Linked DNA regions of Homo sapiens: regions 1, 3 and 4 are each linked to region 2. Evidence: fine-mapped QTL for protein levels in blood plasma. A gene starts in region 2. Each other region holds a variant in brackets. All regions are shown on one strand. Distances are from middle to middle.

Evidence for each region. PIP is the chance, under the fine-mapping model, that this variant and not a neighbour inherited with it causes the effect. Protein levels are from antibody-based Olink assays in UK Biobank. Linkage for the fine-mapping came from a reference panel and not from the study's own genotypes, which makes the PIPs less certain.
Region 1: its variant is fine-mapped to the plasma level of the S100G protein (UK Biobank, PIP 0.95).
Region 3: its variant is fine-mapped to the plasma level of the S100G protein (UK Biobank, PIP above 0.99).
Region 4: its variant is fine-mapped to the plasma level of the S100G protein (UK Biobank, PIP above 0.99).

Annotation. Positions count from the first base shown.
Region 1 is chrX:16,660,878-16,668,986 of GRCh38, forward strand. It overlaps CTPS2 (CTP synthase 2), which reads right to left. Exons shown (of 19, transcript NM_175859.3): 12 at 6,785-6,847; 13 at 6,637-6,680. Among named protein-coding and RNA genes, the nearest start is that of S100G, 15 kb to the left of the region's middle. The variant T/C (reference allele first, on the strand shown) is at 3,201.
Region 2 is chrX:16,642,698-16,650,797 of GRCh38, forward strand. S100G (S100 calcium binding protein G) reads left to right here and starts at 7,461. Exons shown (of 3, transcript NM_004057.3): 1 at 7,461-7,506. The region is part of intron 13 of CTPS2 (CTP synthase 2); the gene reads right to left.
Region 3 is chrX:16,470,932-16,479,040 of GRCh38, forward strand. It overlaps the pseudogene LOC100132857. Among named protein-coding and RNA genes, the nearest start is that of MIR548AM, 150 kb to the right of the region's middle. The variant C/T (reference allele first, on the strand shown) is at 4,641.
Region 4 is chrX:16,416,770-16,424,878 of GRCh38, forward strand. No RefSeq gene overlaps it. Among named protein-coding and RNA genes, the nearest start is that of MIR548AM, 210 kb to the right of the region's middle. The variant G/A (reference allele first, on the strand shown) is at 3,620.

The DNA of each region.
Region 1 (8,109 bases), 18 kb after region 2:
CTATCCCCACAGAGACAGTATCAAAGGAGTATTAGGCTCCCAGAGTGGTCTGTAAAAAGCTATTTAACCCATATTATAGCTGCATTTTTTTTTTTTTTTGAGACAGAGTTTCGCTCTTGTTGCCCAGGCTGGAGTGCAATGGCGCGATCTTGGCTCACTGCAACCTCCACCTCCCAGGTTCAAGTGATTCTCCTGCCTCAGCCTCCCAGTAGCTGGGATTACAGGCACCCACTACCACGCTCAGCTAATTTTTTGTATTTTTAGTAGAGACGGGGTTTCACTACGTTGGCCAGGCTGGTCTCAAACTCCTGACCTCAGGCGATCCACCGGCCTCAGCCTCCCAAAGTGCTGGGATTACAGGTGTGAGCCACCACACCCGGCCTATAGCTGTATTCCTAATGACTACTTTTATGGGAAAAAGGATTTTTAGCCCTAACTAACCTCCAAGTGATTTCTATATGATCTTTGTAATAGTCAGGAGATGCTTACTTCAACACTCTAAATGCAAGAAAATCCTCAAAGTAATCAAAATTGCCTAAAAGATAATTCTAAGTGGGCCATCTGGTTTGTTTTCAACACCTCTTAATTTGCACTCCATATGAAGTTGTTGAAAAATAATACAGATGAGGAAAATATTTTAAACAGGGCTTCAACTAAAGGCAGGAAAATGTTATGCATTAATCAATTATACTTCATGTATAACAAAAATCAACTTTCACCCAAATCAGCTTTTAATTATGTGACTGTTTCACAAATCTACTATGGTAGATGTAAAATTCACTTAACCCTGAAAATTCCTGGATCAAAAAGGGATAAATGACGTCATACCTATGATAAATAATGAAAACTGAAATAATATCAAATACCAAAATCTCAAATATCCATTTGCATCTCGTTAAAATGCTTTGAATTTCTCCCTGTTCCTTTCCCATACCACCATCCAAGTGTGCATGTGTGTGCTGATGTCTTTTGAAGGTGGAACATGAATTCTGTCTTCAGGGTGTAATATCTTATGTAAATTTAGAATTTTTAGTTACCTTTTTCAACAAACAGAAAAGAAATGCTTAGAGTTAAGCACATTCACATGCCTACACATTAGATTGAGATTGTTCATTCATATATATATATATATATATGCCTCAAAAGCTGAAAATATTCAAAATATAAAGTCCAAAGTGCTGTGAACTACACTACAGATGTACTGGAGAGATCTGAAGCCAAATTCAAGGTCAAGGATGTCAGCAGCAGCCATGTGATTGATATAGGGTTAGAATGTAAGTCAGCAACAGCTACGCTCTTGGTTATGTACCATCTAGAAGGCAGCTGAGACTACTTTGAAGCAGGGCAAAAAACCAGAGTTGCTATAGAACCCTAAGTATTCTGCAAAGTCCCAGAGCCTTCAATTTCACCTTGTGGATTAAGCAGAGAAATGACACAATAAAATAAATTTTACTCATTCTCTCCTGGGCACTCTGAGACGCAGAAAGAGTCTACCTTAACCCTTAGGGAAAAATCTGTTTCTCTTTTTATGTGTATAACAGACACTTTCTCTTGGAACTGTTCTGGATGCCAGTGTCTCTATTGATTTCATCAACAGCCATAGCACTAATCATGCATGCCAAAGGAGGGTCATGATGACCTATGAAGAGATCTTAGGAGTAAATATTCCCTATAGAAGGCTCCTGGTTTCCAAACTGTTTACTTTCCTAGCTAGAACAGCCAGAATGACCAGTCCCCACAAAGTAACTGTTATTTGCTCAAGCTTAAGTAACTCTGCAGGCTTCATGGTGCTTGCTGCCTTATGATTCTATCTCCTTAGTCTTTTTTTTTTTTTTTTTAATAAGACTTCTCACATCGATACAAGTGCTAGCTCTTAAGGCTATTTTTCTCCAACAAACATTGCAGGCCATAAAGACGTTCAATAGCAATTAGCTTTTATTGTTCTCATCTCACTTATGTGTATAGGAGCCATCAAAATGTAAAATGCACACATCCTCTGACTTAGCAACTCCCCTTCTAGGAATCTATCCCTGCAGATGTGTTCGCGCGTGGGTGCAAGGATATATGTACATGGATACTAATTTGCAGCATAAATTAAAGCAGCAAAATAATGGACACAAACTAAATATGAGACTGGTTAAATAAATAAGGATGCAGCCATATAGCATACAGCAGAGCAAGCACACCGAAGACATCCCTGCACATTGATGTGGAATGATCAGTATATAAAGCAAGGTGGGAACAGTGTCTGGAGCATGCTACAAAGTTGTTTTGTTTGGTTTTGTTTTGAGACAGGGTCTCGCTCTGTCACCCAGGCTGGAATGCAGCGGCGTGATCACAGCTCACTGCAGCTCAACCCCTGGGGCTCAAGTGATCCTCCCCCTCAGCCTCCCGAGTAGCTAGGACTATAGGTGCATGCCACCATGCCCAGGTAATTTTATTTATTTATTGTAGAGGCAAGGTGTAACTATGTTGCCCAGGCTGCTCTCAAACTCCAAGACTCAAGCAGTCCTCCCGCCTCAGCCTCCAAAAGTGCAGGGATTACAGGCATGAGACACTGCACCTAGCCAAGATCTTTTTTTTAAACGCAATACATATTCATATGTGTGTGGCTAAGTGGGTATACACACACAAAAACACACACACAAATCTCTGAAATAACTAAAGAAATGCATCAGCTGAGCTCCTGTAGTTTCAGCTACTTGGGAAGTTGAGGTGGGAAAATCACTTGAGCTCAGGAGTTCGAGGCTGTAGTGCGCTATGATCACACCTGTGAATATCCAGCCTGGGCAACATAGTGAGACAGCCCATCTCTTTAAAAAGGAAAAAAAGAAAGAAAGAAATGGATCAAAGTAGTTGCCACTGGGGAAGGGAACCGAAGTGAGGTGGGGGCAAAGGAGAGACAGTTCTGTACCTTTTTCTGCAGGGCTTAACTTTTTTACTCTGTGTAAAAAAAAATTTTTTTTCATTTTTTTTGAGGCAGAGTCTTGCTTTGTCACCCAGGCTGGAGTACAGTGGTGCAATCTCGGCTCACTGGAAGCTCTGCCTCCTGGGTTCACGCCATTCTCCTGCCTCAGCCTCCCGAGTAGCTGGGACTACAGGCGCGTGCCACCACGCCCAGCTAATTTCTTTATGTTTTTAGTAGAGACAAAGTTTCACCATGTTAGCCAGGATGGTCTTGATCTCCTGACCTTGTGATC[T/C]GCCCGCCTTGGCCTCCCAAAGTGCTGGGATTATAGGCATGAGCCACTGCGCCCGGCCATGTGTAAAAATTTTTTAACGCACGTACACACACCCCCAGTAAAGAATAATCATCAAAGAATTAACCTTGCCAACACTATCTAACAGTGGCACCTACTGGTAAAATCACTTCCTATCCCAAAGTATATCTTAGAAAAGAAAACCCATAGTTTTCCTGGCACAGCCATTTCAGCTATTAGTCAGGAAATATGTTTATATTAAAGGCTCATAAGGAACCCTTCATTGGTATTAGGCCTTCTGAGCATAAGACTTAAAAGTACCATCTGGCTGGTAAGTTATGGTTCATTATGGTTTGAGTTACAAGCTATAAAAAAAAAGAGTGAAGAATGCTTCTATGTGCTTCCGTGGGGTGATCTCCAGCATACAGTGTTAAGCGAAAAATGCAAGGCAGGAAAAAACTGTGTAGAGTATGCTACCATTTCCCTAAGAAGGGAAGTGGATGACAAAGACATACAGCTTTACTTATATGTAAAAAATGGGAAGATGAACCAAGAAAAAAAAGAATGAATGCTTGCCATAAGGGAAGGGATTAAACAGGCTACAGGGGACAGAAATAGAACTAGATTTCTCTAAATCAGTGGTTCTCAACCAGGGCGATTCTGCCCCTGCCCCCAAGAGATATTTGACAATATCTGGAGGTACTTTTAGTGTCACAGTTGGGCAGGGGTTAGGGAGTGATACTGGCACCTAGTGGGCAGGAGCTCCCACATACAACAAAGAATGATGTGTTCCCAAATGCCGATAGCACAGATTATATATAAGGAACTTATATCTAGAATATATAAAGAACTGTTACAACTCAATAATAAAAATACAAATACCCTAATTTTAAAATAGACAAAGGATGTGAATGGACCTTTCTCCAGAGAAGACATACAAGTGGCCAATAAACACATGAAAAGATGCTCAACATCCTTAGCCATCAGGCAACTGCAAATCAAAGCCACGATGAGACACCACTTCACATCCACTAGGATGGCTATCATCAAAAAGACAGAAATAACAAATGTTCACAAGGATATGGACAAATTAGGACCCTCATACATTGCTGGCAGGAAATTAAAATGTTGCAGCCACTTTGGAAAACAGTCCTACAGCTCCTCAAAGGGTTAAACACAGAATTACCATATGACTCAGAAATTCCACTCCTGGTGAAATGAAAACATATGTCCACACAAAAACTTGCACATGAATGTTCACAGCAGCGTTAGTCACAATGCCAAAAAGTAGAAACAATGCAGATGTTCATCAATGGATAAATAAAATGTTTCATGTCCATATAATGAAATATTAATCAGCAATAAAAAGAAACAAAGTACTGATACGTGTTACAACATAGACAGACTTTGAAAACATTATCCTAAGTAAAAGCAACCAGTCACAAAAGGCTACATATTGGATGATTCCATTTATATTAAATGATTCAAACAGGCAAATCTATGAAGACAGAAGGTAGACTAATGGTTGCCTGGGGCTGGTGGAGATAGGAGGCTTGGGGGTGTCAGCTAAGGCGTGTGGGGTTTCTTTTTGGAGTAATGAAAATGGCCCAAAATTGCTTGTAATGAGAGTGGCACAGATCCGTGAATATGCTAAAAACCATTGGATTATACAGTTTTTTGTTTGTTTGTTTTTTGAGACAAAGTCTCACTCTGTTGCCCAGGCTGGAGTGCAATGGCACGATCTCAGCTCACTGCAACCAACGCCTCCTGGGTTCAAGCAATTTTCCTGTGTCAGCCTCCCTAGCAGCTGGGATTACAAGCATGCACCAGCACGCCCAGCTAATTTTTTGTATTTTTAGTAGAGATGGGGTTTCAACTTGTTGGCCAGTCTAGTCTCGAACTCCTGACCTCAAGTGATTGACCTGCCTAGGCCTCCCAAAGTGTTGGGATTACAGGCGTGAGCCACCGCATCTGGCCGGATTATACAGTTTAAATGGCTAAATTTTGTGGTATATGAATTGTATCTCAATAAAGCTGTTTAAAAAACCAATCGCGATTGTGAGGCGCGAGCTCCATTAGAAGTAGGTGCCCAGCAGCAGGGACACGACTGGGTGTGCATGGGTGGCTGGCAAACAGGCTGACTGAAGGCCAACCATCATCTTGCAGAACTCGCTCTGTTAGTGGTGAGCACAGTAGCATGAGGCAGAAGGCAGAGGCAGGTAAAGAAAAGAGGTCAGGAAAGGTTTCCTCAGATGAATAGGAAGTTGTTGGTAACTGAGTTGTTGTTAATTAAATTTTTCAATGCTTTTATTGAGATTCCAGGGGGAGAGGGATTTTAGGCAGGTGGACATCTCAGGTATAGGGAACCTCAGGCTGTATCTGAAAAACTAGTTTAGATTGTCCAAACGTAAAACTCAAAGCATGTAGCCTGGGCAACATAGTGAGACCTTGTCTCTACAAAAAAAATCAAAAAATGAGGTGGGAAGATTGTTTGACCCCGGGAGGTCTAGGCTTCCGTGAGCCGTGATCATGCCACTGCATTCCAGCCTGTGTGACAGAGTGAGAACTTGCCTCAAAAAAACACAAAAAAGAAAAAAACTCAAAGCCTGGGAGGAATCAGGATGCCATGGGATGAATCAGCAAAGCAGCAGGTGACAGAGCACAGTGGCTTTGGGACCCAGCCCAGAATCCTGGACTGAATATTTTAAGGGAAAAGAAACTGATGGAAGATGAGGACTGGCAGCAGAATCACTGTCGCTTTTGTTTTAGAAAGACAGATGACCACCAGTGTGGAAAATAGGCAGACTGGTGATGAGTCTGGAGACAGGACAGCTCATTTATTTATAGTAGATGTTATAAATTGTTGTCACAGCCGATTTAATCCTTTCCTAAACATTAAGCTTGAAAGCTGCGACAAAGAGAAATCAGTCCAGGATTGTGACTGTCTTTAAGGCATAGCTGAGAAGATGGACTATCAAGAACAAAGGAATTTAATATAAGAATAATGTAATTTAAAATGTTCTGGTGCTGTAAAGAAAAAATAATAATAGACCCCCCCCCGCCTTTTTTTTTTTTTGAGAAGGAGTCTCACTCTGTCACTGAGGCTGGAGTGCGGTGGCATGATCTTGGCTCACTGCAACCTCCACCTCCCGGGTTCCAGCAATTCTCCTGCCTCAGCCTCCCGAGTAGCTGATATTACACGCATCTGCCACCACAGCCAGCTAATTTTTGTATTTTTAGTAGAGACAGGGGTTTCACCATGTTGACCAGGCTACTCTTGAACTCCTAACCTCAAGTGATCCGCCCGCCTTGACCTCCCAAAGTGCTGGGATTACAGGGGTGAGCCATGGCGCCCAGCCAATAGCCCCTTATGAATTTAGGCAAGAGCCAGGACCCAAGTGACAATGACTGGACCCAGAAAGATAAACAAGCCACTTACCAGAGGAACTGGGGCATTTGGCCTAAACTCTGTGGAATCAGCATCTGAAGATTAAGAAAAGAGTTCAGTAATTCACCAATAGTGCTGAAAAATATTTGAAGAGAGAAAATTTTTTAAATAAATGGTCATTAGCAAACCTCGAACTTACCTTTCAAGTTAAGGCAGTTTCTTGCAAACTCTATCACTGCTAGTTGCATCCCAAGACAAACTCCTATTTTAAAAAGCACATATGCAAAGCAAATGAACTCACTTTGTATTTGTTCACATTTTCTGTTCATTTGTTGGCTGCCTGTCTCCCCTATCTAGAATGCAGACTCCCAGAGAGCAAGACTCTGCCTGTTTTGCTCCCTGCTGTCCTCTCAGAAGAATCCCTGACAGAGAGCAGGGCAGGGGCTTAGACTATCATGAAGCCGCCTAAGTCCCAAAGTTGACAAAGAAGGAACATGAGGTCAGAAAAGTGCAGGGTCAACTGGGCGCAATGGCTCAAGCCTGCAATCTCAGCACTTTGGAAAGCCAAAGTGAGCAGATTACTTGAGGTCAGGAGTTCGAGACCAGCCTGGCCAACATGGTGAAACCAGCCTCTACTAAAAATACAAAAATTAGCCAGGTGTGGTGGCATGCACCTATAGTCCCAGCTACTTGGGAGGCTGAGGCAGGAGAATTACTTGAGCCCGGGAGGCAGAGGTTGCAGTGAGCTGAGATCACACCACTGTGCTCCAGGCTGGGTGAGAAAGAAGGAAGGAAAGAAAGAGAAGAAAGAGAGAAAGAGAGGAAGGAGGAGCTGGGTGCGGTGGCTCACACTTGTAATCCCAGCGCTTTGGGAGGCTGAGTTGGGCGGATCACGAGGTCAGGAGATCGAGACCATCCTGGCTAACATGGTGAAACCCCATCTCTACTAAAAAAAAAAAAATACAAAAAAAAATTAGCCAGGCATGGTGGTGGGTGCCTGTAGTCCCAGCTACTCGGGAGGCTGAGGCAGGGGAGTGGCGTGAACCTGGGAGGCAGAGCTTACAGTGAGCAGAGATCGCGCCACTGCACTCCAGCCTGGGCGACAGAGCGAGACTCTGTCTCAAAAAAAAAGAAAATAAAAAGAGAGAGAGGAAGGAGGGAAGGAAGGAAGAAGGGAAGAAGGAAGGATGGAAGGAAGGAAGGAAGGAAGAAGGAAGAAAGAAGGAAGGAAGGAGAAGGAAAAGGAAGGGGAGGGAAGGGAGGGAAGGGAGAAAGAGAGAAAGAAAGAAAGAAGGAAGGAAGGAAGGAAAGGAAGGAAGGAAGGAAGGAAGGAAGGAAGGAAGGAAGGAAGGAAAGAAGGAAAGAAAGAGGCAGAGTCCATGAGACAAATCTGCCACCTTCTAGATTTGTCCCTGAGTTGAGGCATCTTAGTGGGCTGCAGTGCCTGATTCCTTCAGAGAACATCTAACACCCCAACTCAGAGGGAGTTTCCTGGGCTAAGATTTCCCACTCCTTCTCATGGTG
Region 2 (8,100 bases):
ATTCAGCAGCAAAAATTAACAAAAATGTCTTTGTTCCTTGCATTCCTTCCACTAAAAGCCTGAGAGACAGGAGAACATCACAGTTTCAAAACATATCTATTTTATTGTTACTGGGGTGGTTAAAGAAAATAATCTCAAATATGCTTTAGATTTAACACCAACATTTCCAAAATACTCTAGATTTTTGCATCTGAAAGGAAAACGCATCTTCCATTGCAAAAGGATTGCCTTTGCTTCCTCTAATTCAGCCTAAATACTGGCTGTCATCTGATCCCCAGATTTGTCCTCTCTTGGAACTGAGCCATATAGTATGAGAAAAATAAAAAAGGATCAATAAGTGATAAAGCTTTAGGAGATGTAAAATCAGCATGTAAGGATAAATATGGCACTAATTAACCTTTACTGATGTTTTCTGCAGCCCATAATAAAAGTGTAATGAGTTCAAGACTTTACAGCATCCCAGGTGCCTTAAACAACAAAGTCTACAGGAGTTAGGTTCTCTTAGCAACAGTGAAATTCCTGACTGGACCTACCTGACCTACCCTGGTAAGCCCAGCTTTCCTTTTGTTCCTCATCGTTGAATATTTCACCTGGAGACAAAGGGAAAGCCTACTCACCAGCAGCTATTTCTATTTCCAGACTCTTAGGCAACATACAGCAATTTCCTCTAGCATTTTTTTTTTCCACTTTGTAGCATCGGGGTTTCATCATGTTGCCCAGGCTGGTCTTGAATTCCTGGGCTGAAGCAATCCGCCCACCTCAGCCTCCCAAAGTGCTGGGATTATAGGCATGAGCCACCACGCCCGGCCTCCTCTAGTATTCTTTACAAGTATTCTCCAATTCATTCCTTTCCTACTGCTCATTAGGTTTTCAAGCCTGATTCTGATTTTGATTCTAAGTCATATTCAAATTGTACATAAAGTATCAAGCAGTTTTACATCAGCATTACTTTCCCTAATGTTGGGTTGCACTGCTAGCTCCAGCAGCCTCCATCACTACAGACTAAACCTAAACTCTTCTGGGTGGCTCTCAGGTCCTACCTCACACAGGAGCCCAGACTAGCCATGCCCTCCTCATGTATTCGAACCTGTAGCTTCTACCACAGCTAGCTGGGGCCATTGTCAATGGCACCTCCACTCTCCTACCCACCACCATACTACACACAGACCACCTCCTTCTCTACTTTTCCCAAGATACCTTCTCCCTCCCATTCCTCATGCTTTAGGGGCCCCCTCCAGTTCCCCTTACTGCCTCATAATTAATGCCATTGTTATGCTCAGCCTACCAAATAAATAACCTATACATCATCAATTCATTTTCAGTAACTCATAGTAGGAGACTGAATAATGCCTCCCCTACCCTAAAGATATCCGCATCCTAGTCCCTGAAACCTATGAATCTGTGGCAAAAGGGACTTTGCAGATGTGATTAAGTTGAGGATCTTTTTTTTTTTTTGAGACAGGATCTCACTCTGTCTCCAAGGCTGGGGTGCAGTGGCATGATCATAGCTCATTACAGCCTCTGACTCCTGGCTTCAAGTGATCCTCCCACCTCAGCCTTCCAAGTAGCTGGGGCCACAGGTGCATGCCACCATGCCCGGCTAATTTTTTGGTATTTTTTTGTAGAGATGGGGTTTCGCCATGTTGCCCAGGCTGGTCTGGAACTCCTGGCTTCAAATGATCCTCCAGCCTTGGCCTCCCAAAGTTCTGGGATTACAGGAATTAGCCACCATGCCCAGCCTGTAAATTGAGGCTCTTGAGAAGGGAAGATTCTGGATTATCAGGGTGGGCCCATTGTAACCACAAAGGCTCTTAAAACAGGAAGGCAGGAGGGTCAGGGTCAGAAAAGGGGATATGACCACAAAGCAGAGATCAGAGAGACTGGAAGATGCTATGCTGCTGGCTTTGAAGATGGAGGATGGCCGTGGGCAAGTGGCCTCTAGAAGCTGGAAAAAGCAAGGAAATGGATTCTCTCGTACACCCTCCAGAAGGAACACTGCCCTGCCAACCCACTTTATATCTCTGACTTCCAGAAGAAATGTATATGTGTTTTAAGCCACTGTGTTTGTGGTAATTTGTTACAACAGCCATAGGAATCTAATACCGTTATTTACTACAAACAGCTTTAACTTCCTCTATTATTTCATAAATGCATCTCCTCTCATAAATTAAGTGTAGGCTCATCAAGCACAAGGATTAGATCTTTTTATTTTCCATCTCCACTGAGGAGTTCGACACAGTGTCAAGTTCAGATCAAGTACTCAATAATGGAATCTCTCAGTGTTTTTTGTTTTTTGTTTTTTTGAGACGGAGTCTTGCTCTGTCGCCCAGGCTGGAGTGCAGTGGCACGATCTCGGCTCACTGCAAGCTCCGCCTCCCGGGTTCACGCCATTCTCCTGCCTCAGCCTCCTGAGTAGCTGGGACTACAGGCGCCCGCCACCATGCCCGGCTAACTTTTTTTTTTTTTTTTGTATTTTTAGTAGAGACGGGGTTTCACCGTGTTAGCCAGGATGGTCTCGATCTCCTGACCCTGTGAACCACACGCCTCAGCCTCCCAAAGTGCTAGGATTACAGGCATGAGCCACTGTACCCGGCCTGGAATCTCACAGTGTTTTAAGTGTATTAAAAACTAACAGGGGAGACTAAGGGATGGGTCAGTGGGCCACAGAGTAGCAGAGGGGTGTCTGAGATACTCATGGATGTCCCAAGTTGCAGGTGAGTCTCTTCAGCAGACGGGAAGGGAGGGGTGGTGCCCTACTCAGAGGCCGAGTACACACTATGCCCAGTCCTGCCTGACAGAGTCCTGCCTCTAACCTGAAGCAGTTTATTTCCCATTTCTGGCTTCCAACCTGCGCTGCTGTGTCACCAAGTAGTGTGAGAATGGAATCTACAATGAGGAAATCAATGAGCAGTCCCATAAGTACGTATGTATTTTTCCAGTCTTTTAAACTTGTTTTTTTCCCCACCAGTAAAAGAAAGCTGCTATGGTTTGAATGCATTCCCCAAAGTTGATGTGTTGCAAGCTTAATCCTCAGTGCAACAGTGTTGAGAGGTGGAATCTTTAAGAAGCAATTAAGTTATAAGGGCTCTGCCCCCATGAATGGATTAATGCCATTATCATTGGAATGGGTTAGTTATCATGGGAATGGGTTCCTGGTAAAAGGATGAGTTCAGTCCCCTTCCCTCTCTCTCACCCATGTGATGCCTTCTACCACATGATGACACAGCAAGAAGGCCCTCACCAGATGCCAGCACCTTGATCTGGGACTTCCCAGCCACCCTCCAGAACTGTGAGGAAATAAATTTCTCTTCTTTATAAATTAGCCAGTCTCAGGTACTCTGTTATAGCAGTGCAAAACAGACAAAGGCCTATATCATTTTCATCAGGAAAAGAACTTTCTTACACCTCAGAAAAAGAACCTTCTTATACCTCCAGATGTAAACCTAACACTTAAGTGTGATACTACCTGTGGTCCTAATGTTAACATACAATGGTTGTCCTCAGAGAAGCCCTTCTCCTGGGAGGGGCATGTGGCACGGTGGTTGAGGGTGCAGGCTGGGCCTGAACTTGAATCCCAGCTCTACTGCTGACCAGCAGTGTGACCCTGAGCAGGTCCTTGGATGTCTCTACAGACTGGGGGGACCAACAGCATCCACTTCATAAAGTTGCAGCAAGGATTTAAGGAGGCCGTGGGAGTTGGGTGCCTAGGTCAGCACACTGCCCATAGTAAAGATACGCACTCAAGAAGCACAGGCTATGGTCAGGAGACCTCTGGGAACTCAACTGCTGAAGGTGAGCACAGGCTGACCCAAAAGACAGTGAGCCTCACAGCCCAGGCAAAGGTTGGAAGTGAACTTTGTCTGAAGGTCCAGGGAAGGTAGACACCAGGTCAGGTGACAAGCAAGCTATACTTTCTGGGAAAGCAGCATTTGAGTATTCAAGGTCTCTTTTAAACTTCAGGATCAAAGATAACAAGAACCCATGGATAGCATTTCACACCCATTTTGTTTTGCAGGGACCAGGTACTAACACTGTACCCTCTTCCTGAAGGTGCTTTTCAAGACATTGCATGCTGTCACCTTCAAGCAGAATAACCCACAGAAGCCTGTGGTGCCCAGAGCTCTTAAAATATGTTACTCTTGGCTTTCCTAGGAAAAATTAAGCCTGTCCAAAGATCAAACAATTGAACAGTGAGGTGATAAATAACCTTTGCCTCTCCATTTTCCCATTACCACCCTTGTGCCTGTCGTTTCCCCCCTTCTCTGGTTTCAAAACGCACTCTTGTGAACACACCCTGTAATTATCACTTGTCTCCATATATTTTTAGTTAATGTTTCACAAGAGTATCTATTAGTGGATTTTTCATGCTTCCAAGTGCAAGTTTACCCTCATGCTTTTAAGTCTATGGGTAAAGAGAAAAATAAGAGACAAGAGATGTGACTGGTAGAAGTGAGCAAGTAAAAACTTAAGAAGCCGCACAGGCTGTTTTTCAAGTTCAAGTTTTGCTAGCATTCGCTACAAGTATAAATTCTGACAATAGGCAGCATTGGGCCCATTCTTTTTTTTTTTTTTTTTTTTTTTTTTTTTGAGACAAAGTTTCGCTCTTATTGCCCAGGCTGGAGTGTAATGGCAGGATCTCAGCTCAACGCAACTTCCACCTCCCGGGTTCAAGCAATTCTCCTGCCTCAGTTTCCCGAGTAGCTGGAATTACAAACATGCACCACCACGCCTGGCTAATTTTTGTATTTTTAGTAGAGATGAGGTTTCTCCATGTTGGTCAGGCTGGTCTCGAACTCCTGACCTCAGGTGATCCGCCCACCTCGGCCTCCCAAAGTGCTGGGATTATAGGCGTGAACCACCGTGCCCGGCCGCATTGGGCTGATTCTAATCAGAAGTTGTCCCTTGAAAGAAGAGATTTGTAGCCTAGAAGACTATTAACCAATACTGCTCCAAAAGTTTTTCTTAGAGATAATTTTTATATATACATACACACGTCATATGTAATATATGGGTGTATTATATAGAACATGTTATCTTTCATCCTATATCGTTACTAAGATGACATATAGTTATTAAAATCATTTCTTCAGATGCAAAAAATAGGCCAGGTGCAGTGGCTCACGCCTGTAATCCCAGCAGTTTGGGAGACTGAGGCGGGCAGATCATTTGAGCCCAGGAGTTGGAGACCATCCTGGGCAACATGGCAAAACCCATGTTGTATTTTTCTACAAGAAATACACAAAATATATATATATGTATCCGGGCATGGTGGCACATGCCTGTAGTCCCAGCTACTCGGGAGGCTGAGGTAGGAGGATCACCTGAGCCCATGGAGGTTGAGGCTGCAGTGAGCTGTGTTCACGCCACTGCACTCCAACCTGAGTGACACAGTGAAGTGGCTTCAAAAAAATAAACAAAAAAACCAGATGCAAAACATAATAAACACCCCATTTGATTTTAGCTCACTAGTGGTAATTTGAGAGAAAAGATGATTTAAGATGCTATTCAACAATTGGAGAGATTTGACGTGGGCTATGATAATGGCATTGTGGTTACATAGGAGAATGTCTTTGTCCTTAGGAGACAGATGCTGAGGTGCTCAGGGGGGAAGCATCTGGATGTTTGTAATTGATTCTCAAATGACTCAGGGGTGGAGGAAAGTATCTGTCCAGAGAAAGAGAAAGCAAATGTGGAGATGTTCGCAATTAGTGAATCTAGTCGAAAGGCAGACTGGTGTTCATTGCACTATTCTTGCCACTTTTCTGTAGATCTGAAATATTTTTTAAAAGATGTTTAAAAAAAGATAGTTCTTGTTATGATTAAGCACAAACGCCTACTTCCTCCCAGGAAAACAGAACATATGTGTAAAAACACTGGCAATTTTCTAAAATCTTGATTAAAATGCATTGCCAAAATCAGAATATTTTTGTGTAAAATCTTATAACTAAAAATAAAATGCCTGTCTTTACTCCAACCAGTGAGTTAATACATATTCTATATTGGTGCATAGCAAAGTCAAAGAATCCATAATAAAAACAAGAAGAATATATACAAGACAGCAAAGACACATGGAATGATAAATGCTCAAGACTGGCGGGAAGCTTTTAAGGAATTCTATTAGATTTCCCATTTGTTCTCCAATGTAAATAAGGCCCTAGAATTTTAGAGCTGAGAAACATCAGGGAGAAATACAGTCCCAATAGTCCAGTCCTCAGTTTGTAGGTGATATAAGGCAGAGTCAGGGAAAATTCTATAAGTGTGGAAGTGTACAAGTGTTTCAAAGCTGTAAAGTGCTCTTAAAATCCACCTGGAACCCCTTCCTGTGAGTTACAATCAGCATTAGATCAATGTCCCTTGGAAATGTCCTACTTATTTCATGGAACTCTTTCCAGTAGAAATCAATCTCCTTGGCAATTTTAAATCATGGCAGTTACAAAAAGTTTGAAGTATTTCCAACTGAACAAGAGTAAGTCGAGTGTTCTCACAAGTTTTTCGAATGATCACGAAATATATTTGGTAAGGAAAAGGATAATGAGAAATAAAAAGCAGACACAGGACCAACAAATAATGAAAGAGCTGAAAAAATGACCATGTTACTCAATATTGATTTGCCAAATAAAACCACAAATTACTGAGTATCTTCTTTCCACTTCTTAAACCTGCTTCTGAAGCAATACTTCCATTCATTCATTCATGTATTCAAATATTTAAGCTGCTAATATGTAAAGACATCAGAAGGACTTCAATGGCCATACCGTAATTTTTTAAACTATGTAATATTGTCCTTCTATGACAGCATTTTTTCTTTTTTACAGACAGGATCTCACTCTGTCACCCAGGCTGGAGTGCAGTGGCACAATCATGGCTCACTGTTGCCTCAACCTCCCAGGCTTAAGGAATCCTCCCACCTCAGCCTCTACAGTAGCTGGGACTACAGGCATGTACCATCACACCTGGCTGATTTTTTAAATTTTTCAGTAGAAATGTCTTGCTGTGTTGACCAGGCTGGTATCAAACTCCTCACCTCAAGCAATCCTCCTGCCTCGGCCTCCCAAAGTGCTGGGATTACAGGCATGAGCTACCGCACAGGGCAGCATTTATTTTTTCTGGATATGAAGAAAGTTATTTTTTAAAGCCTAAATATGCAACTAAATTGAAAAGAATCCTCTATATCTAAGCTTTATGAAATGTGAACTGTGAGCAAATATAATTCTACATTGGAGGGAAAATATAATCTCAGGGGGAAAAAAATCCAAGCTTACGACTCTGAACCATGAAGCAACTGTCGAGATGGACCTTTACTGGATCTTGCCCTTAATTATGGGGTTCATGCAGTCTTAAGCCTGAGTTTCAAAAACCATTAATAATTACCCTTAAATGGCCAACAAAAGGAAATTTTCATAATCAGGGTGGCGTGCCCGTAAAGACTATAAAAGTGTCATGATTCTGCTCAGCTCTTCAAACTCCTCTTTGATTCTTCTAGCTGTTTCACTATTGGGCAACCAGGTTAGTGTGATTTTGGTACTACCTAGAGCTCCTTCTGTTTGCATTAATACTCTGCTTCCTTTTAGAATGGTGTGAAAGATAATGGTCTGGAGAGAAGGTGAGTTTATGCCATCTGGAGATATTCCCTGTAACTTAGAAGCTAGAAGCTGTGGTCAAGTATTCTTCAAGACCACAGCCTGCAGAGTGCAGATCAGGTACATAAAAAGTGTAGAATGTCATTAATTACTAATAAAAATGTTTGGCTCCAGGGACCATCTCCTAACAGATGTACTCTAAGAACAGACATTTAACATACTATCTAAGATGTCTTTTTTTTTTTTTTTTTTTTTTTGCAGCGGAGGCTCGCTCTGTCACCCAGGCTGGAGTGCAGTGGCATCGCACTCACTGCAACCTCCGCCTCCCGGGTTCAAGCGATTCTCCTGCCTCGGTCTTCCAAGTAGATGGGACTATAGGCACGCACCACCACGCCTGGCTAATTTTTGTATAGAGACAGGGTCTCACCATGTTGGCCAGGCTTCCATGGTCTCGAACTCCTGACTTCAAGTGATCCACCCTCCTTGGCCTCCCAAAGTGCTGGGATTACAGGCATGAGCT
Region 3 (8,109 bases), 170 kb before region 2:
GCCTCCCAAAGTGCTGGGATTACAGGTGTGAGCCACCATGCCCAGCCCAAGGGCAGGTTCTGTTTGATGAAGGGGGTAATCATTTATGTGATATAATATAAAGGGAGAGGTGCTAGGAAAATCCCCAATATAAACATAATACCTCTTCTGTGCTGTTGTCTACAGTTCAATTATCAGAGTATTTTTTTCCTTTGGTTGAGTCGTGCCCACTTCTCATGTCCCACTTGAAAAGCCATAAACTTACTAACATGTCAGTACAAATGTGCTTATCACACAGTGCACTTTCCAGAGAGGTGACAAGCCCAAAAGACCCCCGTGCCCAGGAAGGGGTGGGGAGTTATGGGAGAAGAAATTAGTTAGGGAGCAGAAAGCAGGATCGGGGGCTGGTTAAAAGACAGATCAAAGGAAAACTGAAAGACCCCTCAAAGGTAGTTTCTACCAACCTCATACTTCACAGCCTCACAACCTGGCCCAGTCTCAGGACAAATGGAGATATATATATATATGCACTTATACAATTATATACGTAAATTATGCGTGTGGGTGTACTTTTTTCCCAGCACACTGATGTTAAGGGAGAAATGAAAAATACCATGTAAGTAGATAACACCTAAAAAGTAAGCATCACGAGTGAGCTATATAGACAGGATTTCCAGGAAGCTAATCATATCTCACAAAGAAATTGAGATGCCCTCTTTATCTTTATCTGAAAAGAAAGTCTTTCCAGCTATAATAAACTTATAATTTAGAAGAGCTCAAAAAGTCTTCCAGCTTTGTTAGTGAAAAGCAACCTGTCTTTAAGTGCCCCAGGTCATGTCTTCTTTTCTCATCTCAAATTATTCTGGGACAATCAGAAAGAAAGTGATCTACATCTGTTTACCTTGCTGAAAAAAGAAAAATGTCAGAGCTGCCTGCCAGGAGTTTTTTACAGTGTAGTTCCTCTTAGACACAGGAAATGGGGAGAAAGTCGCTGTCATTTAACAGATATTAATTTTGACCAGCCATGAATGAAACTTCTGCTGCTCCTGAAAAATATGTGTAGCTTGCCATGCCCTCAGACATGTGATTGGAATCAATTCTCCACCTGTCCATGACTTTTGCCATGTGGTTTTGCCGCGGAAAAATCACTAAAGCATCTCACTAAAGCAGCAGTCTATCTTTGCCCCTCCAGTCTGAGCCCCACCTGTAAAGGGCCTGGGAGTAATAGTTGAGGCTTTGCAAGCAAGACTGTCTCTTTTGCAACTACTTGTAGCACAAAAGTGGCTACAGAAAATATGTGTATAAATGGACATGAATGTATTCCAATGAAACTTTATTTACAAGAGCAGATGGCCAGCCAGATTTGGCCCACAGCCATAGTTTGCCTACTTCTAGCCTAGACACACTATTACCATAGCAATAATAGCTAATGATCATATTGACAAGAACTTACTTATGTCATTGTGATGTAGTGTTCCCTTCACCCAGAAGGCTCTGCCCACCTGTGCTTGTTGTCAATATCCTTTTTCTTTATGTCTTACACTCCTCTTCCAAGAAGCCTGAGACTGCTTACTTAGAAGAGTGTTCTAATCACCTATTTACTCATCCTTCTCCTTCATCACACTAAAAGTGTCTAAAAGCAAGGTTATGTCTTAATCACTTTTATATACCCAGAGCCTTGCGGAGAACCTAGACCATAGAAGATGCTCAGTAAGTGAATGTGAAGTGAATAATTCAAGGAAATACAATCACTTCAAGAGAATGAGAGGACAAGCCACAAACTAGGAGAAAATGTTTGCAAAAGACAGATCTGATAAAGAACTATAATCCAAAATACACAAAGAACTCTTAAAACCCCGCAATATGGAAAATGAACAATCCAGTTTAAAAAATGGGCAAAAGATCTGAACAGACATCTCACCAAAGAAGATATGAAGATGGCAAATAAACATATGAAAACATGCTCCATATCATCTGTCATCAAGAAAATGCAAATTAAAACAACAATGAAATAGCACTACATACCTATTAGAATGGTGAAAATCCAAAACACTGATAACACCAAATGCTGGCAAGAATGTGGAGCAACAAGAGCTCTCATTCATTACTAGTGGGACTACAATATGGTACAGCCACCTTGGAAGACAGTTCAGCAGTTTCTTGCAAAACTAAACATACTCTTACCATACAATCCAGCAATCATGCTCTTTGGTATTTACCCAAACAAGTAGAAAATTTATGTCTTCACAAAAACCTACATACAGATGTTTATAGCAGCCTTCTTCATAATTGCCAAAATTTGGAAGCAACCAAGATGTCCTTCAGTACCTGGATAAATGGTGGTACATCCAGACAATGAAATATCTTTCAATGCTAAAAAGAAATGAGCTATCAAGCTATGAAAAGACAGGAAAGAACCTTAAATACATATTACTAAGTGAAAGAAGCCAATCTGAAAAGTCTACATACTGTATGGTTCTAACTATATGACATTTTGGAAAAGGTGAAACTATGGAGATGGTAAAAAGGTCAGTTTTCTCCAGGGGTTGGGAAGAGGGAGGGATGAATAGGCAAAGCACAGAGGATGTATAGGAATGTGAAAGTATTCTGTATGATACTGTAATGGTGGATCCATATCATTATACATTTGTCCAAACCCATAGAATGTGCACCACTAAGAGTGAACCCTGATGCAAACTGCACTTTGGATGATAACGACATGTCAACGTAGGTTCATCAATTGTAACAAATGAACCACTGTGGTGTGGGATGTTGGTAATGGAGGAGGCCAGATGTGGTACAGGGGAAGGGGACATATGAAATTCTATGCTTTCTGCTTAATTTTGCTGTAAAATGAAAATTGCTCTAAAAATAGTCTATTTTTAAAAATGCACATGCAATTACATATCATTGTTGCAAGTCTTTACTCAGCCTCTTCTATGGCCCTTATTCTCAGGAGACACTGAAAGCTAATTACTTGATTAGACAATGGCTCCTTAGATCTGACAAGGTCGAAGCACAACCAAAAGCACAAGTGACAAAAGAAAAAATAGATAAATTGGACTTCACCAAAATTAAAAATGCTTGTGCTGCAAATGTTACTATCAAGAAAATCAAAACACAGAACAGGCAAGTGTTTTTTTTTTTCCCACATAAAAACGGCATCTGCTTTATTTGGTATACTTTCATTTCAGAACAAAATAAACAAAAAAGCACAATACACAACATCCAATATCCTGTTATAAAAGTAGAAAGAGAATGGGGCTTAAGGCTCTTGTTTCCTGCCTTAGACACACGGACAGGACAGAAAAAACACTAGACATCAGCAGAGGGAGCCAGGTGGGATAAGGCCACTCAAGGCCGCGGGACAGAGCCACTCAAGGAACCATGGGGACACTATACAAGGGCACAAGGTTTCCAAATATAAACTCCTAGTCTACTTCTTCCATGTAAGACCCATTCTCCTCACCCTCAAGCAGGGGTATCTCATCAGAAACAACAGCACTGGGTTCCTCTGTTGTCACTTCATCTTCATCAATACCTATACCTAGCTTGATCATGTGGTAGATGCAGGTGGAGGGTCTGGGGATCCTCAAGGGAGAAGCCAGAAGAAAACAGAGCAGTTTCAAACAGCAGCACCACCAGGTCCTTGACAGCTTTGCTGTTCTTGTCTGTCTCAGCCTTCTGCTGCAGCATCTCCACAATGGGGTGGTCGGGTTGATCTCCACGCGCTTTTTGGCCACCATGTAGCCCATTAGAGAGTTGTCTCCAAGTGTCTGAGCTTTCTTGATTCACTCCATATTGGCTGTCCAGCCATAGGGTGCTGATCACAATGCAGCAGGGTGAAGACACAAGCCTATTGGAGGCTGTCACCTTCTCAACCTTCTTATCTAAGATTTCTTTCATAAGCTTGCAGAGGTTCTCAAACTTTGCCTTGCTCTCCTCCATTTTCTTCTTCTCCTCTCATCCTCAGGTAGCTCGACCTGAGGTAATAGAGACCAGGCTTTTCTTATCAAACTCCTTGACCAGCTGCACGCAGTACTCATCAGTGAGCTTGGTCTAATATAACACCTCGAAGCCCCGCTTTGAGAGGTGTCTACCTGCTCTTTGCTCTCACCAGTGATGTAATAGATGGACTTCTGTGCCTCCTTCATGTGAGAGAGATACTCTGACAGAGATGTCATCTCATCTTCAGACTGGGAGGTGTGATAGCACAGCAGCTCAGACAGACGTCCCTGGTTGGTGGAGTCCTCATGGATCCCAAGGTTTAGATTTTTAGAGAATGCCTCATAGAATTTCTTGTAATTCTCCTTCACTTCTGCCAGCTCAGAGAAGGGCTCAAGCCACTTCTTAACAACGTTTTCATGAATGACTTTCAAGATTTCGCTCTGCTGGAGCACTTCTCAGGAGATGTTCAGGGGCAGATCCTCAGGGTCCAATAGTTCAAATAATTAAACAGGAAAAGAGATTGACAGCAAAACTAACTATTAAAAGGAATGCATTCAATTCGCAATTGCAGATATGGAACCAACCTAAGTGCCCATCAACCAACAAGTGGATAAAGAAAATGTGGTATATATACACCATGGAATACTACTCAGCCATAAAAAGGAATAAAATAATGTCTTTTGCAGCAACTTGGATGGAGTGGAGGCCATTAT[C/T]CTAAGTGGAATAACTCAGAAATGGAAAACCAAATATCGTATGTTCTCACTTATAAGTGGGTGCTAAGCTATGAGGATGCAAAGGCATAAGAATGATATAATGGACTTTGGGGACTGTGGAGGGGGAAGTTAGGAGGGGGTGAGAGATAAAAGACTACATATTGGGTACCGTGTACACTGCTTGGGTGATGGGGAGAGCAAAAGTCTCAGAAATCACCACTAAAGAATGTATCCATGTAACCAAAACCACCTGTACCCCCAAAACTATTGAAATAAAAATAAAAATTAAAAGAGTGCATTAAGTAGATATTTTTAGGAAAAAACATATAATCTCTTATCCCCACCAATGTTATACAGTCTTAGTAGCAAGTAGAATATATATAATTGTAATTGTTGCAAAATTGCTTTGTGTACTCTAAAAGTAAACAAAATAAGCTTTGAGAATTGTATTTAGTTTTTTGTTATCTAAAAAACACCTCAAAAACATTGCAGCTATGAAAACGGTGGAGAATTTCCAGGCCAATTTCTGCATGAAAGCCTGACCCTGTAGGGCTAAGGGGAAAAGCAAAGCCTCAAAACTTCTGGAGTCCTTTGTACCCTCATCAATAATGCAAACACTTGCCCTCAATTCCATAGCCTCCCTGGGCCGGAAGAACTGACGCTGAAGTCCAAAGCACACAGAAAAGGGGGTGTCCTGGGGTAAGGGCGGGGCCGGATCTAGACCTGCCTGCCCCACTTCTCACCGAACCCCCATCGCCACCACCAAGCCTCTTGGAACTGCTCTGATCTGAGCCAGAGCATCAGGAACGTCAAATGTCAAATCAAGCTTGGAGCAGCTAACTTTGAGGGATAGTTATCTACTTTAAATTTTGGATGTTTTAAAAATATTTGAAACAAAAGTCATCTCTGTAATCCCTTTTCAGCCATTTTTTAATCTTCTTTTGGACTAAGGTGTTTAAATCAATAATTTAAAGAAACTTGTATATATATATATATATATATATATATAAAATATAAAAAATATTAGAAATGACAATCAAAAAGTTCAACTTTAATTAACCACTTCATTGGTTGTGAGTTTCACTTCCTAGCAGTCATCCACTAATTAATATTTGTTAATCTCCATAGCAGAGTGAACAGACCCAAAAGTCACAAAAAAAGTCCTTTGACTTAAAAAGGAGAAGAATTTATTTCCTTTAAAAGAAAGAGCAAAGACAAATACCGTATGATCTTACTTATGTGTGGAATCTAATAAAGTTGAACTCATGGAAGCAGAGAATAGAATGGTGGTTACCAGGGGCTGTGGGCGGGGCAGATGTTGGTCAAAGAGTACAAAGTTTGTTAAACAGAAGGAATAAGTTAAGAGGTCTATTGTGCAACATGGAGACTGTAGTTAATAACAATATATTATATACTTGAAAATTGCTAAGATTTTGTGTTCTTACCACAAATAAATATTTAAGGTAATGCATATGTTAATTAGCTCAATTTAGCCATTCCACACAATGTAGACATAATTCCAAACCTCATGCCATACACCATAAACATATACACAATTATTTGTTAATTTAAATAAATAAATAAGGAGTGGCAATTTGATTAATCAAAAATGGGGGAGGGGGGATTTATACTAGATCCAGTCAACCAATAGCCAGGCTTTGTTTCCAGCTAATTAAATAGTAGAAAAGAATATGGTTTCCACCCATTCGACAAGAGTATGATAAGCTAAGGAGTAATGACAAAATGCAATTAATTTCACTATCTTTTCAATCATTTCAAGTGTTTGGTTCTATTCTATATGATTCTTTATTCAAGTTTGGTTCTATTCTATATGATTTTTTTTTCTTTTTAATTTTACTCCCAACATTTTTAACCTTATTATTAGGAACGTCATAGTTCCTAAAACATTGTTTTCTGGCTGAAGTATGAATTTTGCAAGTATAGTTTGTCGATATTAACTAGAAAAGAAAACGTGATCCTACATAATCACATGGGACAGTAACAAAAGAATATGGAAAGATGCTTTTAGGAAAAATTGCCAAAGACTTGGCAATGGGCAAAAGATTACTGAGTGTCCTTTCAGTGAAGTGCTTGCATATTATCCAAATGACCATCCCAGGATTGTCTGGCTCTATCCAGGTATGTACCTTTGACTGATTGTCTTCCTATTATTTAGGCTATTTTGTAACTCTGTAAGGGTAGAAGTTAAGCTATAGAAAACTGTTAGTAAAGCAAATAATTATTATCCATTGAAATGCAAATACACTGTATCTAGAAATATAATGAATTTCTGCCCTGTAGAAAGAATAATCTCGAACATTACATTTCATTGCCATACAAGACAGCAACATCCAACAAAATATATGTACAATGCAAGCCACAGATGTAATTTTACATTTTCTAGTAGCACACTGAAAAGGATAGAAAGAGGTGAAATTCATTTTAATAATACATTTTATGTAATTCAATTATGTTCAAAATATTATCATTTCAACAAGTAGTCAACATAAAAAATACTGAGATAGTTTACATTCTTTTTTTGTATACTATGCCTTTGAAATGCCTAATGTACTTTATGTTTACAGCACATCTCAATTTATGCTAGCCACAATTCACATGCTCAACAGTCATGTGGTTAGTGGCTACCATTTTGAACACTGCAGCTATAGTTTTTGTCTGCACAGGTCTGGATAATTCAACTATTACATCTCCCCATGCAACTATTTGTTAAAACACTTTTGGTGTCAACCCTAGATATTTCTTCAGCTCCTACTATGTTCCTGGCTGTTTGCTACTTATTAGGATGGGTATAAAAACTATAATAAATGTCCCCTGACCTCAAAAAGTAAGATGAGGTAAGACATATAAATCATTAAACAAAAAATTAGAAGCAAGACTACATGTAAATGAATTCTCAAATTTAGTGGACAATAGAGAAGTGAAAAATCAATATGATAGGCACATTCAAGGAGGAGACTTTGGAGGGAAGAGAGGAGCCAGGGATATTCCAGACTTAATAAACAGAATGAGGAAGGAAAGGGATGAGTTAATGGTTAGAGAAAACAAGGAGTTACTGGCCTGCTTTTATTTATTTATTTATTTATTTAGCCTGATTATGTCAAACATTCCATTTCTTTGTTTCAGATCATAGTTTTCATAATATATGGTTGCTCTTAGGTGGATAAATTAAAATAGCTTTAGATTGAATATAGATCTTATCCATTATATGTTGTATGATCTCAACTATGTTCTAAAAAATGCATTTTAAAAAACAGGAAGAAAACACCCAAAATGGTGCAGACAACTGGATTGATTATGGTGGGGTAGAGGATGATCCTGCTTCTTTGAAGTTTGCTATACCTTTTATTATCTTTTTTCAATAATCACATAATATTTTATAATTAGAAAAAATATATACTATTTATATTATGTAAAGAAGTTTTATTCATTTGATGGTTCCAGAAATTCT
Region 4 (8,109 bases), 230 kb before region 2:
AGGGAGGCTGGGAAATGTAGTTCAGTTGTGTGTCCAGGAAACAAGTATGGTTGACAGCCCAATAGTCTCTACCACAAACCAGCCAGACATAGTCACTGTAGTCATTGGAATTAAATACTTAATTACCAGAGAAAACAATAATTTCATCTTAAGAAGTAGTAACATAGCTTGCTAATATTATGTTGAGAGACTGAAGAAGTTTGTCTCTGAAAAGAAAGTGTGATTCAAATAGATTATCTTTTCTCTTACTACTTTTGAGGATTTATTTGGCTGGCTCATACATCTTGACTGCACATTTGAAGACAATTGGCAAACTTGTGGACCCACATGTCAGCCTTGCTGAACTTCTAGAGTGAATTTTACACATAAATCACATGGAGTCAAAAGCTGGTGTTCTTTGGCATTGCATGTCTACAACTTCACAGCAAAATGGAGTTCTCTAACATAATTTTGAAACTGCTTGCTGCTGCAATGATAATTTCCCAAAATCTATTTATACCTTGCAAACAGCAATCATAGCTATTCCCTCACCATTTTTACAGAGTTTCCATTCTCATTTTACAGGTGAGGCAGCAAATGGAGCTCAAAGGTCCTCATTGTTTTGCAGTCCTGAAGTGGCTTCCTTCCCCTATATCTGTAGTTTCATCACCCTTCTTGTTATTGTATTTGTGAACATGTATTAATCTGCCTTCTAGGTGGTAGAAAAAAATTAACAGCATCTGTTTTCATAAATCTCTGTTCTAATAAATGATAATAATATTGATGAACATATTTCCAAAATTATCTTCATAAAAGCTTTAAATGATGGCAAAGGAAACTCATATCCAAATTCTCCTGTAAAATTAATTTTTAGCCAAGTTTATTTTAATCTATCTGTTAGACCACTTGCTCCTTCATTGCTTTTTTTTATTTCTCCATTCATTTGTTCAGTCAATCGTTCTCAAATATAATTAATTTCATCCATTTAGTTAACTTTAAAATAGCTATATTTGGCCAGCGTGGTGGCTCATGCCTGTAATTCCAGCACTTTGGGAGGCTGAGGCGGGTAGACCATTTGAGGTTGAAACCAGCCTGACCAACATGGTGAAACATACGAAAATTAGCTGGGCATGGTGGCACATGCCTATAATCCCAGCTACTTGGGAGGCTGAGACATAAGAATCGCTTGAGGGAGGCAGAGGTTGCAGTGAGCCAAGATCACACCACTGCACTCCCAGCCTGAGTGACAGAGTGAGACTCTGTCTCACAAAAAAAAAAAAAAAAAAAAAAAAAAGCTATATTTGCTGGACTTATTTGCAGAGGGCACATTTTGAGGAACTTGATTAGGGTTCAAGCTCCATAGTCACAAAATTAAAATCGGAGAGCTCTTGCGACTCTTTGAGTAAGTTGTTTTCATAAGTTATACTTGTATGTGCTACAGAGACATTCCAGTTCATCCATTTATTTATGTATTTGTTCTTCATGTACTTACTGAGCACATACCATGTGCTGGGCACTGTCTAGGTACTGAGGATCCCGTGATGGACAAGATACACAAAAAGTCTCTTTCCTCATGGAATTTCCATTCCAGTGGAGAAGACAGTAAACAGACAAATATATACAATGAGATAGACTATATCACCTGCAAAAACCAATTTTGCAACTTTTCCTGTCTCAACAGCAACCCCTAAGTAAACCCCCCCACTCTACCACTGCCTTTGTAAATATTTGGCACTTCAGGAAAATTCCTGTTGTTAGTAGACAAAAGTGCTGCAGAATAGTAAAAGGTAAGAGACATAAAGCTCATTAACGATTAGAATTGACAAGTGTTGCATTTTGCCATTATTTTGTTTCATTATAGTATTTTAACATTGCATGGCTTTTCTTCCCCCTGCTCAAAACAAGACTCCAGGGTCCCAGGTTGTTGCCATCCAGTTATTTTCTTCCCACTACATGAACACAAATTTCTAGAATTCTAAAGGCCTTGAGAGATAATCTTCACTGACCACATTATTTTATAAATGAGGAGAGTTAGGTTCAGAGAGATGAAGCAATTGCCTGAGATTAGAGAAGTAGTTGGAGGAAGAGCTGGGACTGGATTCCAGGTCTAATTTTACATCCCCAGGAGAGCACAGCAGTGAATAACAATCCATTTATAATACTAAGCAGAAAATACTAGCAGACTTGGCTACAGAAAGTGGGACTTTGAAGTTGTTAACTAGAAGTTTGAAAAGTCTATTTGCAAGTCTTTCTTTGCTTTCTTTCCTTCCATGCTTCTTTTGAGGACAGAGTTAGATTTTCTTTTCTTTTTCTTTTTTGAGAAAGTGTCTTGCTCTGTTGCCCAGGCTGGAGTGCAGTGGTGCAATCTTGGCTCACTGCAACCTCCGCCTCCTGGGTTCAAGTGATTCTCGTGCCTCAGCCTCCTGAGTAGTTGGGATTACAGGTGCGCACCACCACACCTCCCTAATTTTTGTATTTTTAGTAGAGATGGGGTTTCACCATGTTGACCAGGCTGGTCTCCAACTCCTGGCCTCAAATGATCTGCCCGCCTCAGCCTCCCAAAGTACTGGGATTACAGGCGTGAGCCACTGCACCTGGCCTGGAGTTAGATTTTCCTTACAAAGTTGAATAAATTTCTGACATCAGAGCTGAAAACTGGAAAAACAAGAGACCTGAAAAACAGAAATGCAAATCAGTTTAATCCCCCAAAACACAGGTCAGATGGTATCTTTCTAAACACTGCTTTCATAATGATTAAAACATCCAACAATCTACAAGTTAGGCAAAAGGAAATAAACAAAAAGAAATCCAGACTTTCCAGCAACATATGGAAAAACTTTACTAAAGATCAAAAAGTGCAAATTAAAATTTTAGGATGTCCGTTTTTTAAAACTTATATACATACCAGGAGTTTTCCTAAGGATAATCCTCAGGGCTTATGAGGGTTGATAACATAGAGGCACTTTTTCAGAACAATATTCCAGGAGCCTTGAAACATTCATGTCTTTTGACTCAGAAATGTACTTCTAGGCCGGGCGCGGTGGTTCATGCCTGTAATCCCAGCACTTTGAGAGACTGAGGTGGGTGGATCACGAGGTCAGGAGTTCAAGACCAGCCTGGCCAAGATGGTGAAACCCCATCTCTACTAAAAATACAAAAAAAAATTAGCCAGGCATGGTGGCGGGTGCCCGTAATCCCAGATACTCGGGAGGTTGAGACAGAGAATTGCTTGAACCCAGGAGGCGGAGGTTGCAGTGAGCCGAGATCGTGCCACTGCACTCCAGCCTGGGCGACAGAACGAGACTCCGTCTCAAAAAAAACAAAAAGAAAGAAAGAAAGAAAATGTACTTCTAGGAATTGGTGCTTAAGAGATAATTAGAAATTCTACCAAAGATGTATAGGCAAGGATACTCATCACTGTGTTGTTCATGATGTAAAAAAAAAGAAAAGAAACAAACTAAATATTTGAGGGGAAAAAGCCATAAGTAAATAAAGTATGGTATGTCTATCACATGGATTTTTTAAATGACTACTCAATGATATGGAGAAAGTGCTCACAATATAAAGTTAAATCAAAGATTCTCAACCAGAGATTATTTTCCCCATCAAGGAGCATTTGGCAAAAATGTCTGGGCCAGGC[G/A]TGGTGGCTCATGCCTGTAATCCCAGCACTTTGGTAGGCCAAGACGGGTGGATCACCTGAGGTCAGGAGCTCGAGACCAGCGTGGCCAACAGGGTGAAACTCCATCTCTAGTAAAAATACAAAAAATTAGCCGGGCGTGGTGGCAGGCACCTGTAATCTCAGCTACTTGGGAGGCTGAGGCAGGAGAATCCCTTGAACCCAGAAGGTGGAGGTTGCAGTGAGCTGAGATCATGCCATTGCACTCCAGCCTGGGCAACAAGAGCGAAACTCCACCTCAAAAAAATAAATAAATAAATAAAAATGTCTGGAGATATTTTTGGTTGTCAGAGCTGGAGGGAGAGGAGTGCTACCAGCAGCTAGTGGGTAAAGGTCAGGGATACTGCTAAAAATTCTATAGTGCACAGGAACAGCCCCCACGGCAAAGAATGATCCAGCTGCAAATGTCAGTATCACCATGGTTGAGAAACTTCTGAGTCAGATGACTAAAACAGGGCACAATGTTATGAATGCTGATTGATCTCAAATTTTAAGAGGGGGAAAAACAAGGATATCACTTGGTGATTGTGTTAGTCCATTCTTGCATTGCTGTAAAGAAATACCTGAGACTGGGTAATTTATAAAGAAAAGAGGTTTAATTGGCTCATGGTTCTGCAGACTTTACAGGAAGCATAGCAGCTTCTGCTTCTGGGGAGGCCTCAGGAAGCTTCCAATAATGGCAGAAGACAAAGTGGGAGCAGGCGTCTTACATGACAGGAGCTGGAGCAAGAGAGAGAGCAAGGGGGGAGGTGCTACACACTTTTAAACAACCAGATCTTGGAAGAACTCACTATCACGAGAACAGCACCAAGGGGGATGGTGCTAAGCCATTCATGAGAAACCCACCCCTTTGATCCAATCACCTCATACTAGGCCCCACCTCCAACACTGGGGATTACAATTCAACATAAGATTTGGGCAGGGACACAGATCCAAATCATATCAGTGATAAAATTACAGATGATGTTTATTTTCTTCTTTATACTTTACTTTCCCAAATATTCTACCATGAATGTGTGTTATTTATATAGTCAATTTAAAAATTTTTGAAATAATCCTTCAAAAGCTCTCTGCAGCCTCTTGCATCAAATCAAACTCCTCATCTCCACCCTCTGGATCACACATCATTTGGCCCTGCCTAAACTAAAACCTTTATTCTTCCCTACTTTTCATCAAGAACTCTCTAATTAGAACAATATCTCCTGCATCCCTGAACACACACCCTGCTTGTTTGCTCATTTTTTTATTATCTGTGACACAAGAATAATTGTTCACATCACAGGATTGTTGAGAGGATCAAATGAGATAAGATACGCAGACCAAGTTTATAACTGCCAAATATACAAATGTTAGTTGTCACTCTCTGTTGCCATGCCCACCTTCTCTCCAGTGGAACTAACCTACCCATGATTCAACTCCTAACCCGGAATCAGTTTTTCTGTGAAGCTTGTCCTGACTTCCCCAGGCTGTTTTGGGAAACAATGAGCCCTACAATTTTGCCATCCTAATAAAAGAAAGGTTGAAGTTGAAGCACAGTTTCCTTGGAACACTAATTCCATGAGCCATTATATCAGTGAAAGTCATGTCAGGAAACAGTACACTTAAATTGGGCAATTTGAGGAAAGATGAATAATGGGCTGTTCACAAAGATGTGGCAGAGTATAGTGTTGTGGAAATTCAGGAACCCCAAACGGAGGGACCGGCTGAAGCCATGGCAGAAGAACATAAATTGTGAAGATTTCATGGACATTTATTAGTTCCCCAAATTAATACTTTTATAACTTCTTATGCCTGTCTTTACTACAATCTCTGAACATAAATTGTGAAGATTTCATGGACACTTATCACTTCCCCAATCAATACCCTTGTAATTTCCTATGCCTGTCTTTACTTTAATCTCCTAATCCCATCATCTTCGTAAGCTGAGGAGGATGTATGTCACCTCAAGACCCTGTGATGATTGTGTTAACTGCACAAATTGTTTGTAGAGCATGTGTGTTTGAATAATATGAAATCTGGGCACCTTGAAAAAAGAACAGGATAACAGCAATGTTCAGGAAACAAGAGAGATAACCTTAAACTCTGACTGCCGGTGAGCTAGGCGGAACAGAGCCATATTTCTCTTCTTTCAAAGGCAAATGGGAGAAATATCACTGAATTCTTTTTCTCAGCAAGGAACATCCCTGAGAAAGAGAATGCGTTCCTGAGGGTAGGCCTCTAAAATGGCCGCTTCGGGGGGGCAGCCGTCTTTTATGGTTGAAGCTATAGGGATGAAATAAGCCCCAGTCTCCCGTAACGCTCCCAGGCTTATTAGGACGAGGAAATTCCCGCCTAATAAATTTTGGTCAGACCGGTTGTCTGCTCTCAAATCCTGTCTCCTGATAAGATGTTATCAATGACAATGCATGCCCGAAACTTCATTAGCAATTTTAATTTCGCTCCAGTCCCGTGGTCCTGTGATCTCGCCCTGCCTCCATTTGCCTTGTGATATTCTATTACCTTGTGAAGCACGTGATCTCTGTGACCCACACCCTATTCATACACTCCCTCCCCTTTTGAAAATCACTAATAAAAACTTGCTGGTTTTACGGCTTGGGGGGCATCACAGAACCTGCCGACACGTGACGTCTCCCCTGGACACCCAGCTTTAAAATTTCTCTCTTTTGTACTCTGTCCCTTTGTTTCTCAGACCAGCCGACACTTAGGGAATATAGAAAAGAACCTACGTGAAATATTGGGGGTGAATTTCGCCCAATACCTGGCTGAATTTCCCCTGACATCACAATTTATGTTCTTCTGCCATGGCTTCAGCCGGTCCCTCCGTTTGGGATTCCTGACTTCCCGCAACAGCGTAGGGAAACCACAAGAAATAGGTCAGTATCCCAGGTCTAGTAACAGCTGAAAGTTCTTACCATCCCCAGACCTAAAGGGAAAAGAGGATGGGGTGGTTTACTGAACCCAGAAGCAAGAAGGAAAGAGTCACAGAAAGAAGGCTCCAGAGAGGAACTGTGACTTCTGTCCACAGATGCAGTGAATTGTAGGTGACCCAGAGGATAAATATCCTAAGTCCTTCCTCCTTCTAATCATAAGATCAGCACCCACTGGCCAAACTAACCGGAAGTTAAAGAGTGTGTCAGTCACAGTTCTCCAGAGAAACAGAACCAATATTTAGAAAGAGAAAGACAGGGGAAGGTGGGGAGAAAGAAAGGTTTTAAGGAATTGGCTCATTTGTTTGGGGGATGAGTGGGGGGATAAGGGGACCTGGCAAGTCCAAAATGCGTAGGACAGGCTGGAAACTCAGGCAGAAGCTAATGTTGCCTTCTTGAGCTAGAATTTCTACAGGAAACCTCGGTTTTTGCTCTTAAGGCCTTCAAACAATTAGGATACGGCCCACCCAAATTATGGAGGGTAATTTGCTTTACTTAAAGTGTACTGATTAGACACATCTACAAAACACCTTCACAGTAGTATCTGGATTAGTGTTTGATTGAATAACTGGGCAATAGAGCCTAGGCAAGTTGACACATAAAAGTAACCACGATGGAGATCAAAGGGGATCTGTTGATGCAGACCATCCATGTCTGCCTCCCTCACAAGGCACATAGCAGAATAGAGGAGGGTTGTGGGTGGAGAAGGAGAAGACAAGAGCTATCCAGTACAGTTTTAACAGCTATCTTGTGAGCAAAAGTGTTCCATGGTGAAATAAATTTGGGAAACACTGAGTTAAACATAATTAAACCAAACCAATTGTTTCCCAGGTAAAATGAAGAGGGGAGACATTCTGAACAGGAGAGATGAGATGCCCAAAGGCTCTTTGTCGAGTTAACTGGTGGGTGTAAATACACACAACGGACAGGAAGTGTAGACGGGCTTATGTAGCTGCAGTAGGATGTCCAATTGAGGCAGGCAAGGGGGGCATCAAGTAGAGGAGGTTACAGGCTAAGGAGCTTAGAGTATGTGATTAGGAGGTTTAATTTTATTCAAGAGGAAATTGAGAGTTATTCTGGGCTTCTTAGAATGGGAGTGGCCTAATCCAATAATAGTTGTAGAAAGGATTCATGCTGCTATGTGTAGAATGCACTGGAATAAAGACAAGAAACAGAGAAACCAGAAAGAAGGCAGATGATGCACTGTGGATCTAAGATGGCCATTGGTTATTATGGGATTGGGGTGAAAATGAAAAGGAAGCAGGAGAGCCAAGAAATATTGCAGAGGAAGGAAATGCTTAGTGGCAGGCTGCAAGTAGAAAGTGAAAGAGAGAGATGATTCTAAAGTCGGAAAATAATTACAATGTTATTTCATAATTAAGGATCTAGGATACTTATGTAGCCCATCCAACTCCAGTCAGCAACCAGCTCTTTCATCCCAAACAAAAATTAGAGAATGCTTCATGTGAGAGGTTGAAATGACATAAATCCCATCCATTCCATTGTGCCTCTGGGGAGCCACTTCTT